Regions from separate parts of the Homo sapiens genome. Here all the other regions are reported to be linked to region 1. Evidence: microRNA targets listed by miRTarBase, many of them from high-throughput screens and not tested one by one. Region 1 holds a microRNA gene; each other region holds the end of a gene's coding sequence.
Evidence for each region. Region 1 holds the annotated microRNA hsa-miR-4668-3p (GAAAAUCCUUUUUGUUUUUCCAG, at 1,253-1,275, shown strand). A microRNA usually pairs through its seed, bases 2 to 8, with sites in the 3' UTR of a target mRNA and lowers its output. Matches are read on the target gene's strand: a 7mer-m8 pairs with bases 2 to 8, a 7mer-A1 pairs with bases 2 to 7 and ends in A, and an 8mer does both.

Region 2: miRTarBase lists ZDHHC6 as a target of hsa-miR-4668-3p. Seed matches in the 3' UTR shown: 7mer-m8 at 2,371-2,377.
Region 3: the mRNA of ST6GALNAC3 is a reported target of hsa-miR-4668-3p. The part of its 3' UTR that is shown has no 7-base or 8-base seed match.
Region 4: the mRNA of LRPAP1 is a reported target of hsa-miR-4668-3p. Seed matches in the 3' UTR shown: 7mer-A1 at 2,085-2,091.

Annotation. Positions count from the first base shown.
Region 1 is chr9:111,930,895-111,934,026 of GRCh38, forward strand. MIR4668 (microRNA 4668) reads left to right here and starts at 1,206; the gene lies at 1,206-1,275. UGCG (UDP-glucose ceramide glucosyltransferase) reads left to right here. Exons shown (of 9, transcript NM_003358.3): 7 at 377-463; 8 at 1,276-1,465; 9 at 1,933-3,132. The coding sequence ends at 2,103.
Region 2 is chr10:112,428,158-112,431,289 of GRCh38, forward strand. It overlaps ZDHHC6 (zDHHC palmitoyltransferase 6), which reads right to left. Exons shown (of 11, transcript NM_022494.3): 11 at 2,143-2,750. The coding sequence ends at 2,647. It overlaps ACSL5 (acyl-CoA synthetase long chain family member 5), which reads left to right. Exons shown (of 21, transcript NM_203379.2): 21 at 1-219. Among named protein-coding and RNA genes, the nearest start is that of ZDHHC6, 17 kb to the right of the region's middle.
Region 3 is chr1:76,628,315-76,631,314 of GRCh38, reverse strand. It overlaps ST6GALNAC3 (ST6 N-acetylgalactosaminide alpha-2,6-sialyltransferase 3), which reads right to left. Exons shown (of 5, transcript NM_152996.4): 5 at 1-2,695. The coding sequence ends at 2,509. Among named protein-coding and RNA genes, the nearest start is that of LINC02567, 150 kb to the left of the region's middle.
Region 4 is chr4:3,510,297-3,513,428 of GRCh38, reverse strand. LRPAP1 (LDL receptor related protein associated protein 1) reads left to right here. Exons shown (of 8, transcript NM_002337.4): 8 at 393-3,132. The coding sequence ends at 455. Among named protein-coding and RNA genes, the nearest start is that of LRPAP1, 21 kb to the left of the region's middle.

The DNA.
Region 1 (3,132 bases):
TGTCTCCCATGAGATCCATAATGCCACTTTCTGTTTACATGTCTTGTTGTTTGGTTAGTAGTCATCAGAGACTAATCTATTAAATATGGAGCCCTCTCCATTTTTTTTCAAAATGACTGCATTTTAAGTTTCTTAAATTGTAAAGTAAGGTGGGTACAGTTTCTTCTAGTTCTTAGATGGTGCTGTCACGGGCCAGCATAATTGCTAAAACATCCATACGTATGGTAGACCTTAAGTCATGTGCTAATCATGAAAGCTGGGCTCACCCTGAATACCGGCAGTTGCCTGGTCTTTATAATGATTACTGAATGCATAACCAGTTACGCTTGCATGTGTTCATCATCATAACTTATTTTCTAATTATCTTAATTTTCAGAGGTTGGAGGTTTGCAATGTCCACTCAAGTTGCAATGCAAAACTCTGGCTCATATTCAATTTCTCAGTTTCAATCCAGAATGATCAGGTAAATCAACTGTTTTCTTTTTATACTTCGTTAAAAGGAAAGTGGGGAGGGGGGTGGTAATTTTTACAGGTTTAATGTAGTTAAATGAATGTACCTAAAGGTTGAAGATTTTTGTTTAGTTGCAGAAAATAGAGTTTAACGTCTGTGTTTAAGATAAATTTAATGTCTAAATGTATTTTATTTGCTGTATAACACTGAAAGCACTCATTAGAGAAATGTTGAGACTGAATTTTTTAATATGCTGATCTTTATTTTCTAACTTTCTGTGCTGATTAAATTTTATTATCTGTATTCATCAGAGCGTAGGCCATACAAATGAATTTAAAGACATTTTTCTTTGACATCCTAGACAAAAATAGAAAAGAGAGTCATTAAAAAAAATTTTTAGGTTGTGTGTGGTGGCTCACACCTGTAATCCCAGCGCTTTGGGAGGCCAAGGCGAGAGGACTGCTTGAGCCCAGGAGTTTGAGACCAGCCTGGGCAAAATGGTGAAACCCTGTCTCTACAAAAAATGCAAAAATTAGCCAGGTGTGGTGGCGTGTACACCTGTGGTCCCAGCTACTTGGTGGGATGAGGTGGGAAGATCGCTTGAGCCTGGGAGATTGAAGCTACAGTGAGTGCCACTGCACTCCAGCCTGGGTGACAGAGCAGAACCCCGTCTCAAGTAAAAAAAAAAAAACAAAACAAAAAAAGTTTAAAGAGAATGGTCTTTCTATCACAGGGTAAAAAAATTGATTATTTGAGGGAAAAAAAAAAGGATTTGTCTTGTAGCCAGGATATTGTTTTAAAGAAAATCCTTTTTGTTTTTCCAGGTGGACCAAACTACGAATTAACATGCTTCCTGCTACAATAATTTGTGAGCCAATTTCAGAATGCTTTGTTGCCAGTTTAATTATTGGATGGGCAGCCCACCATGTGTTCAGATGGGATATTATGGTATTTTTCATGTGTCATTGCCTGGCATGGTTTATATTTGACTACATTCAACTCAGGGGTGTCCAGGTATGTGGATAGGCATGAAAAGGTTGGCAGTCCCTTGGTGGAACTAGAACTATTTCAATTTAGAAAAAGTTGAAGGAAATGTATCTGAGCCATTCTTCAGCTTCCCATTGTAGGTTAGTCTCGGGTTTGAACATGACTTTCTCTAGTGGAATGTTGATGCAAAACTTAAGTCGATTTGCAACTTTCTATTGGTTATATAATCGCTTTTATTAAGTTTCCAAAAACATGAAGTTAATTAAATCAGTGAGTATTGAAACTAATAAGACATTAAGATAGCAGTTATTTTAATGCTTCATTAACAATTAGCATTTTCTTGAACGGTATAACATGGCAGTTAAATTACATAAGGAAGCAGACTTGATTTTACATAGTATACTTAGAAAAGTGAAATCCAAGAATTTAATTTTTTAACCTTGTCTTTAGTTTGACAGTGAGTGAAATTAAAAAATTTTTTTTTCCATTCCTAGGGTGGCACACTGTGTTTTTCAAAACTTGATTATGCAGTCGCCTGGTTCATCCGCGAATCCATGACAATATACATTTTTTTGTCTGCATTATGGGACCCAACTATAAGCTGGAGAACTGGTCGCTACAGATTACGCTGTGGGGGTACAGCAGAGGAAATCCTAGATGTATAACTACAGCTTTGTGACTGTATATAAAGGAAAAAAGAGAAGTATTATAAATTATGTTTATATAAATGCTTTTAAAAATCTACCTTCTGTAGTTTTATCACATGTATGTTTTGGTATCTGTTCTTTAATTTATTTTTGCATGGCACTTGCATCTGTGAAAAAAAAAAAAAACACATCTGTAGTCTTGGCCAAATGATACACTTTATTTTGTGGAAGTAGAGAATCAAGAGAATTGGTTCTAGGAACCTGGGTTCGTTCATCATTGTTGTTTATTTTTTTAAAATAAATAAATAAATATATATATAGATGCTCTGCAACAAACTCTGTGACAGTATCCTTCAGTAGAGAAAGTTTCTTACTTGTGAGTACACTCTTTTAGAACATTTACGGGTGGCAGCAGCTTTGCTTTAGAGTTTAGAAGATAATAGAAGGAATGACTATTCATGTCCAAAGTGAATGGTTTTGTGCAGTGAACAACACATGGCGAGGTACTAACTGAGAAACTTTTTCATGCTTTATGCCTACCTCTTGTAGTTGTTGCAGAGCAAATATAAATTGTAATAAGATAGCTAGGCCTTGCAGAAACAAACAGAAAAACTTAAAAAAAAATGATATAAGAGCTGGAGTCTAGTATTTATATGAATCTGTGAGAGATAATTTTTTTGGTCTCACTGCAATGAACCAAAAGCGGCTGAGTTTGGTTTTTAATTGTAGCCATGTATTGAAGGCATCTTTTTGACCAACTCTTGTTGGTTCTGTCTTGAACCATTGTTAATCACTGTGCTGTAATTAGTATAGCTAAATCTTTTCCTTCCTTGCTCCTCCCCCAGCCCACCCCGTCTTCCCTTAACATTTTTTCAGGGGGGGTTGGGAGTGGTTTCATTTTAGTGTGAGTGGATGTTTTGATAGTTGTAAGGAAAAAATGCATTTCAGACACATTTCACACATGAGCTATTTTCTTACACAGTATGTCTTATTGTTAATAAGAATGTAATTTCATGATACAAGTATTTAATACCTTTTTTAAGTCAG
Region 2 (3,132 bases), not on the chromosome of region 1:
TTTCCAGTAAATGAAGCAAGCACTGAATAAAAACCTCCTGAACTGGGAACAAAGATCTACAGGCAAGCAAGATGCCCACACAACAGGCTTATTTTCTGTGAAGGAACCAACTGATCTCCCCCACCCTTGGATTAGAGTTCCTGCTCTACCTTACCCACAGATAACACATGTTGTTTCTACTTGTAAATGTAAAGTCTTTAAAATAAACTATTACAGATACTTACGTTGTGGTGTTTCTTTCCTCATGGACCATGATGAAAATCAGTCTTAAACAAGGACCCCTTAAAAATCAAGTACAGTATCTGTTCTTAAACTTGGGTACACAATAGAATTATCTAGGAAGTTTAAAAAGACACTAATGCCCAGCACTTTGGGAGGCCGAGGCGGACGGATCATGAGGTCAGGAGACCGAGAACATCCTGGCTACTATGGTGAAACCCCATCTCTACTAAAAATACAAAAAACTAGCTGGGCGTGGTGGCGGGCACCTGTAGTCCCAGCTACTCAGAAGATTGAGGCAGGAGAATGGCATGAACCCGAGAGGCGGAGCTTGCAGCGAGCCGAGATCGCACCACTGCATTCCAGCCTGGGTGAAAGTGTGAGACTCTGTCTCAAAAAAAAAAAACAAAAACAAAACAAAAAAACCACTAATGCCTGGTTGCCACTCCAGGGATTCTGGCTTAAATGGCCGGATACAGCCTGGGCACTGAGATTGTTAAGAAGACCCACAGATGATTCTAGTCTGCGAACAGGTTAGTGAAGAAAAGTAAGTTCTGAAGACCAAACCTTCTTATCCCATAGCTGTAAAGAATAAAACAAATACCAGCTGAGCCAAAACTCCAACTGAGCACAAGTCATATCCATTCTTTTACCATCTTTGTTGTACTCTAATTATAATCTTGAATATTAATAGTATTCTTTTCTGGCCTCCAACTGGAGTTAAAGAGAATGTTCTTGGATGGTCTTTCTAGATTTTGAGCCCAGAAAAGCCAAAGAAATATCTATTCTTAAGGATCTGAAACAAAAGGGTAGGCAGGAATTAACTTTTAAAGTCTAGCTCCCATTATCACTTTAACTTTCTCGCCTTCACTTCCTTTCCTATTCTCCCCTCACGCATTACAGCTGAACCTCACTAGTTACCTTCCTGTTTCTCAAACGTGTCAGACACAGGTCCAGCCTGTTTTTGTTCTTGCTGCTGTCTCTAAAATGCAAATATCCCAAAGCACATGACTTGTCCCCTCATCTGCTTCAAATGCCAACTCAAGACTGTCCTACCTTCTTGCTTCACAATAACATGACTCCATCTTACATATATTTTACCTGTCTGTTCACTGCTGAATTCCCAAGTGCTCTTCCCTTATCCTCAACTATTACAGGCCTGGCCCCCAAAGCTTCACATTCCCTGCCTTGGAAAGGTTTCTGAAGTCCAGAGAAATAGGCTTTCTCTTTCCTTCTGTGATTCCACTGTTATGTTTAGACAAGCCCAATTTAAGCATCCAAGCCCACCAGCTTGGATCCTACCACTCACACAAGCTTCAGCTTTTTACTCAAGGGTACATGAGTAGTTTGATATCACTATGTTTAAAGTCTAGAACACTACTGCCACGGGATCCTTGGGGTGTTGCTTCCCCAGCTGGAATCCTCTGTGGCTGGCAGCCCAAAGTCCAGAGGGGGCCTAGGCGGCAGGGCGCTGGTGTCAGCACCACTCAGAGCTCACGTACACCTGGCCAGGTCCTCACAGCACCCGGGCTTGGCCTCACCTTTGCTCCAGAGCGAGTGCCAGGAGCAGGAAGAGGCCAAGCAGTTGTTGGGGGGGGGGTGTGGGGGGGGTATTTCCCCTCGGCCCCCTAGAGCACAAGGATGCCCGGGTCCGCAGCCACGGCTGGACAGCTGTAGCTACGCTTGGCTCCTGCCTATCACGGCTCCCCCTCAACACCCCTCAGGCCACCACTGCCATCCGCTGCCATCACTATGACCGCAATATCCCATTAATAGGGTTAATATCTTGAAGCAAGTGTGTCATGTCTTAAGCCACGTTTTAAGATGCCAGTTGTCCACAGGGCAGCAGAGCAGTTTTTCCATAAGGAACTAAGATGAACCTTTTTAGTCAGCAAAAAGAAAAATGCTTTAAGTAAAAACTGATTATACCCAACATCCATTGATCTTTATTTGATTTGACAAAATCTGCATTTTTAAAAGACAGGTAACAAAATCTGAGGTTATACTGAATCTGACAAATTGAGTTCTATAGTATCTAGAATATCATATAAGAAATATCAACTGAGGGAAAAGAGAAGTACCACATGCAGATGCTCCTGGCAAGGGGGGAACTGTATCTGCAGGTGAGGTCCAGAGTGTGCAGTGCATAAGAAAATCCTACAGAAAATGCCGTTAACTTACTTGGATGAAATGTTTTTCCTTTGAGGGGGAGGAAGAGGTGGTAAAGAGGGGCAGGAATTCAAAGGCATATGCAGAATGGCTTCTCCATTTCAAAATGGTAATAAAAATATTTAAATCATGGCACTAGGGCACCTTTGAGGAAAAGAACATCTTAACCAGAGTAGGCTCATTGCATAATTCTTTAGTAATATGTACAATTTTCAAGTAATTAAGCAGACTTAAAGGATAATTTTGTTTTAACAGCAGCTATCTATTTTTCTTCTCCCCCTCTGGGGCTTGATCTGTTTCAGCATCACAGGGACACTTTTCCACACATTTTCTAGGGAACCAACCCCTTATTCTTGAAACACCTGAGGGAGAAAATGAAATTGAGGTGAAATAGTCTGATGGATGACAGTGACATTACTGAAAGCAGTAAGTCCTATTACTTCAAATTAATAAGCTTGTAGTTAGACTTTTATTCCCCACTTTGCTATCTATTATAAGCACAGTTTGAAGGGGAAAAAAATAAGATTTTTAAATGTTCATAACAAGCTAGGAACAGGTATTTCCCAAATTTGATGATCCCGAATAGGGACTAATGTGGTTAAAGACAGCTCCTAACTAGAGTCAGGGGGAACTCGGTATGGGTGTTTACTTATATGTGTATGATCAGGAAAGGTGTTTTTGGCACACCATCACACTGTCTTTTCCAGGGAACTATCTTCTTGTAGTCTTTGTAAATTTCCTTTT
Region 3 (3,000 bases), not on the chromosome of region 1:
TTTTTTTTTTTTGTTTCCTGTTTGTAGAAAGAAAAAGACAAAGAAAACAACAATAAAAAGTGTAGAGTAGCAGTTTAGTTGCAAAAAGAAAGGAAAGAAAGAGGAGACGAGAGGAGAGGAGAGGAAAGAAAGCCCTTTCCCACCCCTCCTAAGAAAACACTGGAGTCTACATATTCCACACACACCTTCTGCTATAGAGTGAGGGATACAATATACTGCAGAAGTCTTCATCAGAGAAAGCTACAACGAGGCAGGAGAGCAAGCAAGTTTTCAAATGTTTCTCATCAGTAGGGGCTAGAACAAATAAGAGTTGGCCCTTCATTTATTAGAAAACTAAATAAATTAAGTTCATGTCCCAAGCCATTCTGATTAATCAAGGATTTCTTTTTATTTTAAAGTGAAACAACAGGGGGAAAAACAGTCTGTATGGCAATTTTAACATTTGTCTCTGTTTATTTTTCTTTGAGTGGGCATTTCTATCTATCATTAGCTCAAAAAAACTTAACATTCATAGAATTAAAAATTGCATAAGGGAACAACAAAAGAATAACAACTCCTTCCAACGATAGAACTGGGGCTTAGTAATGTTTATGGGTGTGAATATTGAGGTGTCAAAATTGCAGAAGAGAGTAGGCAAAAGGCCTTTATCCAAGATGGCACACTTTAATGATAGCTCACCATAATACTTAGCACTAGTAAAGACCTACAAGTGCTTCTGAAGTGAAATGTATCATTACTTCCAGTTTCCAAAACATTCTATAAGTTGAGCCTGGCTTTTGTCTTTTGAATCATTCTGCAAGGATGTTTTTGAATTCTCAGCTACTCTTGCAGCAAATCAACCCTTTACTATTTAATGAGCAACGAGTATATGAAAAATAGAATTGTCTCAATCCTAGGAAAGGAAACTATATTTCTCTGCCTTCATTTCCTCCTGTTGTCCCTGCTTTTTCATTTTTTCCCCACCTAAATAGAACCACACGTGTATATATACGTATATAGAAAAACTTCTCAAAACTACTTATTTTCACAGGGGCCCTAGCATATGGCCAAGACCATCCTTTGTGATACTTTTTGTGTAATCCTGATATAATGTATTTGGCACAGAGATCAACTGGTTACTAGTTTACATAAATTCTATTCTATACAAATATTAGCAAGTAGAGCAATCTGGAATATAACAGAACAATGACCAAATTACAGATCATCTGCTAAAGAGAGCAGAATACACAGACAATAGCCCAATGGGGTGTTCAAGGGCATCACATGGTATAACAGATGTTAAAGGACTCTAAATGACAAAGCACTTTGGACATTAAGAACATTATTATTGTTGTTATTGTGGCATAACAACTGATACACTATGGGAAAAATAAATCCCTAGAAGGCAAAAAGCTCTGGTCAGGTTTAATATAAGGAATCATTTCCTCTCCATGTGTAACAGCTGGCACTTGGCAATGAGAATGTAATGTTTGGAGAAACACACCTTGGGCCTATAAAATAGAAATTTGAATATACAAATATATATTATGAAGTATGATAGGATACAAATTGATGTAAAAATATGCTTTGCTGTCTCTATTTCATGATTTTAAAAATCATATAGTTTTGTGTTGTTGGATGTTGAAGCAGAGTTAGCAAACCCTTTGGTTACTTTTTAGGAATGTTTTCACAGTATATGTTATTACAGTGTTGAAGTTGGTATCTTACATGTTAAGTAGCCTTCTGAAATATTTAGCACTCAACCAAAAATAACTAAACATTAATATAGATCATTCTAATCACATGTTCAGTTATACTGTTGGTAGTAAGAATGGATGGTAAGAGTGGAAATTCATCAAGATTTGCTACTTGGCCCATTTTGATTTATGTGTTTGAGATAGTCAAGTAATCCTGAAGTGTAGGATGTCCATGAAATCTTCATTGTTAATTAGGCAATGGCCTGAGGCTTTAGCTGTAGGAAATACTGTAGAAAGATGGTATATTAGGAAGAGATATTTTCCCATCCTTAGGCTAAGTAGTAAGATACTTGCACCCTGATAGCAGTTCTTGGGTCAGTGTTTGACAATCAATCATTCTTCAAGATGGCGGAACTGCTGAGATTCAACAAGCCATTGAGTCAATCACCTTGCCTCATGAAGCCAAACTCTTTTGGCTTCTGGAAGTTACTCACTGTTGAACAATTCTAGGCAGCTATCTTGAAAGATAATCTTCCCATTTCTTAGGTCACAGTTGTCATGTCACTGGCCTTCATCTCAATTCCAGTTAAATTATAAAGTGCGGTACGTAGTGTTGAACCTCCAGAAAGAACATCATGAGCACAACCATCCTCCATGAAATGCCAAGTTTAAATTACTAGCAGAGTCACCATCCACATCTGAGAGTGTACAGGAACTTGATAATCATTGTTGTTGTCTTTATCATTACCATCATCTCCATTAGCATCATCAGCATCACAGTTGCAGTATGGGGATCACATTAAGTGATGCGGCAAGATCAGGAAAACCATTATCAAGACAATGTCCAGTTTGGATGTGTAAATATTATCCTGTGCTTCTTGGCCCATTTAGCAAACACTTTCTTTTCAGTGATAAACCTATGACCCCCATATGGGGCATGTTCATGAAGAAAATATTCATCACACTCATCTCTTCCTTGTTCATAATAATGGTAGGGGACTTTTCTATACCCTTCTGTCCTAGAAAAGAAAAAAAAAGAAAAGGAGAGAAAGATTGAGATGAAGAATGAAGCACTCATTTACAAGAATCCATTATGTGCCCAGTAAATGCATTTACTCACAAACCCATACATGATTCTTGTCCATGAACTCAGTTAAAAGCTATTATATGTATGAAAGCTTTTAGGAAGATGTACCAAGTTTTTAGTGGTTTAATAGATCAAATAAAATTTATATATCATGCCAATTACATTCAAACATATGGCTATCTTTTGAAAAGGAAATGGTGTATAATTGAAGAAACTTTAGATAGCCTCTTGCAGAAC
Region 4 (3,132 bases), not on the chromosome of region 1:
GGCTGAGGTGGGAGGATCACTTGAGCCTGGGAGGCAGAGGTTGCAGTGAGCTGAGATCATGCCACTGCACTCCAGCCTGGGTGACAGAGCGAGACCCTTTCAGTAAGTAAATAAATAACACCATGGGCCTATCACAGAGACCCTGAGCTTTCCACTTCAGCATGAACTGCTCCTGGCTGGTGGCTCTTAGCGTTCTTTGGTGGGATTTTCTAGTTAGTACTGAGCTGCTTTTGTGATTTGAGCATTTCTGGATGGGTGTGGAATTGGAAAGTCAGATGTGCAGGGCTTGCGCCTTTTCCTTTTGGATCGCGCGTCTCCTGACATGAGGCTGAGCTCACAGAGCTGGCCTCGAGGCGCGCTGTCCCCAGCTGATGAGACGTTTCTGTCCACAGGTGAAGAAGCATCTGCAGGACCTGTCCGGCAGGATCTCCAGAGCTCGGCACAACGAACTCTGAAGGCATTGGGGAGCCCAGCCCGGCAGGGAAGAGGCCAGCGTGAAGGACCTGGGCTCTTGGCCGTGGCATTTCCGTGGACAGCCCGCCGTCAGGGTGGCTGGGGCTGGCACGGGTGTCGAGGCAGGAAGGATTGTTTCTGGTGACTGCAGCCGCTGCCGTCGCGACACAGGGCTTGGTGGTGGTAGCATTTGGGTCTGAGATCGGCCCAGCTCTGACTGAAGGGGCTTGGCTTCCACTCAGCATCAGCGTGGCAGTCACCACCCCAGTGAGGACCTCGATGTCCAGCTGCTGTCAGGTCTGATAGTCCTCTGCTAAAACAACACGATTTACATAAAAAATCTTACACATCTGCCACCGGAAATACCATGCACAGAGTCCTTAAAAAATAGAGTGCAGTATTTAAACCACCCGCTTGTTGGCTGGTCACTAAGTGTCCTGGTGGCTGGGGCCGGAGCCAGTGCTCTTGAAGGGATCGCGTCATAGCCAGCTTCCCCTCTGGGCCCTGTGGGTCTTTGCAGCCAACCTCCTTTTCCCGTGAGACGGCCCGGCCTGATTTAAAGCCAAGAGCGCTTGAGTTGAGTTTGAGGGGAAGATGTGGAGCGTGTGGTTCTGTGGACAGTCAGAGACTGTGGCCTGGGGGCAGCGTCTTTCAACTCTCACCTCTGCAGCTCAGGGACCTCGGGAGACCTCACCAAACCTGCAGGGCCTCCGTGTCCCTAAGTGTGCTGTGTAAATGCCCCATCTCATGGGGGAGAGACAGCCACGGAGGCCTTCCTCTGACCATAGCTGATGGACTGGCGGTTGCTCAGGTCCGGCTCCGAGAATGTTCCTGTGTCTGAGCCTGGAAGAGGCTCGGGTCTGGCTCCAGGCGTGGTTCCCTTCCCGTGTCTGAGCCTGGAAGAGGCTCGGGTCCGGCTCCGAGCGTGGTTCCCTTCCCGTGTCTGAGCCTGGAAGAGGCTCGGGTCCGGCTCCGAGCGTGGTTCCCTTCCCGTGTCTGAGCCTGGAAGAGGCTCGGGTCCGGCTCCGAGCGTGGTTCCCTTCCCGTGTCTGAGCCTGGAAGAGGCTCGGGTCCGGCTCCGAGCGTGGTTCCCTTCCCGTGTCTGAGCCTGGAAGAGGCTCGGGTCCGGCTCTGGGCGTGGTTCCCTTCCCGTGTCTGAGCCTGGAAGAGGCTCGGGTCCGGCTCTGGGCGTGGTTCCCGTGTCTGAGCCTGGAAGAGGCTCGGGTCCGGGTCCAGCTCCGAGCGTGGTTCCCGTGTTTGAACCTGGAAGAGGCTCCACCAGGCGTATTGTGTTTTGACTGCAGCTGGATCTTGGCTTGACTGTTGAGATCTGCCAAACATCCGCTAAGCTATCATTTCTGAGAAAGGTCAAGGCTAGAGGCAGCATGTCGGGAGTTGGCGCATCAGGGTTGGAAGGGCCCCAGGGTACAGCATGTGGGTGCCTGTTCCTTTGTGGACTTGTGTGTGTGTGGCTGGTGGGGCGGGGGGTGGATTCTGGTTCTTTTTTTTCCCATTATCCTGAGAGCCTTAAGGTACTCAGTGTGTTGGTGAGACTCAGCCCTGTCATCTAGCAGAAGTGTGTTCCTTTTCATTGCTGTATAGTATTCCATTGCATGACTGTCCTGTGCTCTGATTTTAATGCACTTTATTGTGGGTGGATATTTGAGTTGCTTCCTTTCTGGGGTAATAACACTCACTTGGAAATAGCTGTGGTGAACACTCGTGTGGGGGTGGGGGTGGGGGCCAACTCTAGGAGCACCTAATGGATCTTACGAAGCGTGTTGTCCAAGTATAGAGATGATTCCAAAGTGGTTGGACTGTGTTTCTTTCTCCCAGCTGGGTGGAAGGAGAACACTAGTGGATTGCTGAGACTTGGTGCTCGGTATTTTTAATTATGGACAGCCTGGCTGGCGTTTTGTGGTGTCTAATTGCGGAGTAGCGTGTCTTACTGTATAATGGCCTCTTTTGTATGTGGGAGACCATGGTGTTGAGGGGAGGCAGTTACACAAAAAACCCAGATACCGAGTGTTAGTTCCATGGGTGTGGCTGGTCATGGTGCGCACTCACGAAGGATGTAGGTGATGCCCTCCACTCCGCAGAGCCAGTCCCACAGGGGTACCCATTCTGACTCCTACCACCGCAGCTCCCTACCTCCCGCCTGCCATGGGTTCCACGTGCATGGCTCTGGGCAGTCTGTGTCTTTGCGTGCGTCTGTGTATGTCTGCGTGTATCTGCTTACATTCGCTCAGCATCTGAGATTCACCCAGGCTTTTGCGTGGATCAGCGGCAGACTCCTGATTGCCGCGTGGCGGCCTGTTGTGTGGGTGTGTGCCGCGTGTGTATCCAGTCCCTACTCAGGAGTGTACGTTTCCAGTGTGGGTTGCAGTCAGGATCCATTTCTCCCTTAACTTTCAGATTATTTGCTGCATAGGCTTTTTTCTCCTAATTTGGCGCCTTTGTCAGAAATCAACTGACCTACCTGTGTGGGTCTGTTTCTGTTTGTCCTTACGCTCTTGCCATTGCCACACTTTAGACAAGGTCTTGCTCTGTCCCTCAGGCTGGAGTGCAGTAGCGTGATCTCAGCTCACTGCACCCTTGACCTCCCATACTCCAGCAATCCCCTCGCCTCAGTCTCCTGAGTAGTAGCTGCGACCACAGGCGTGTGTCACCACACCCGGC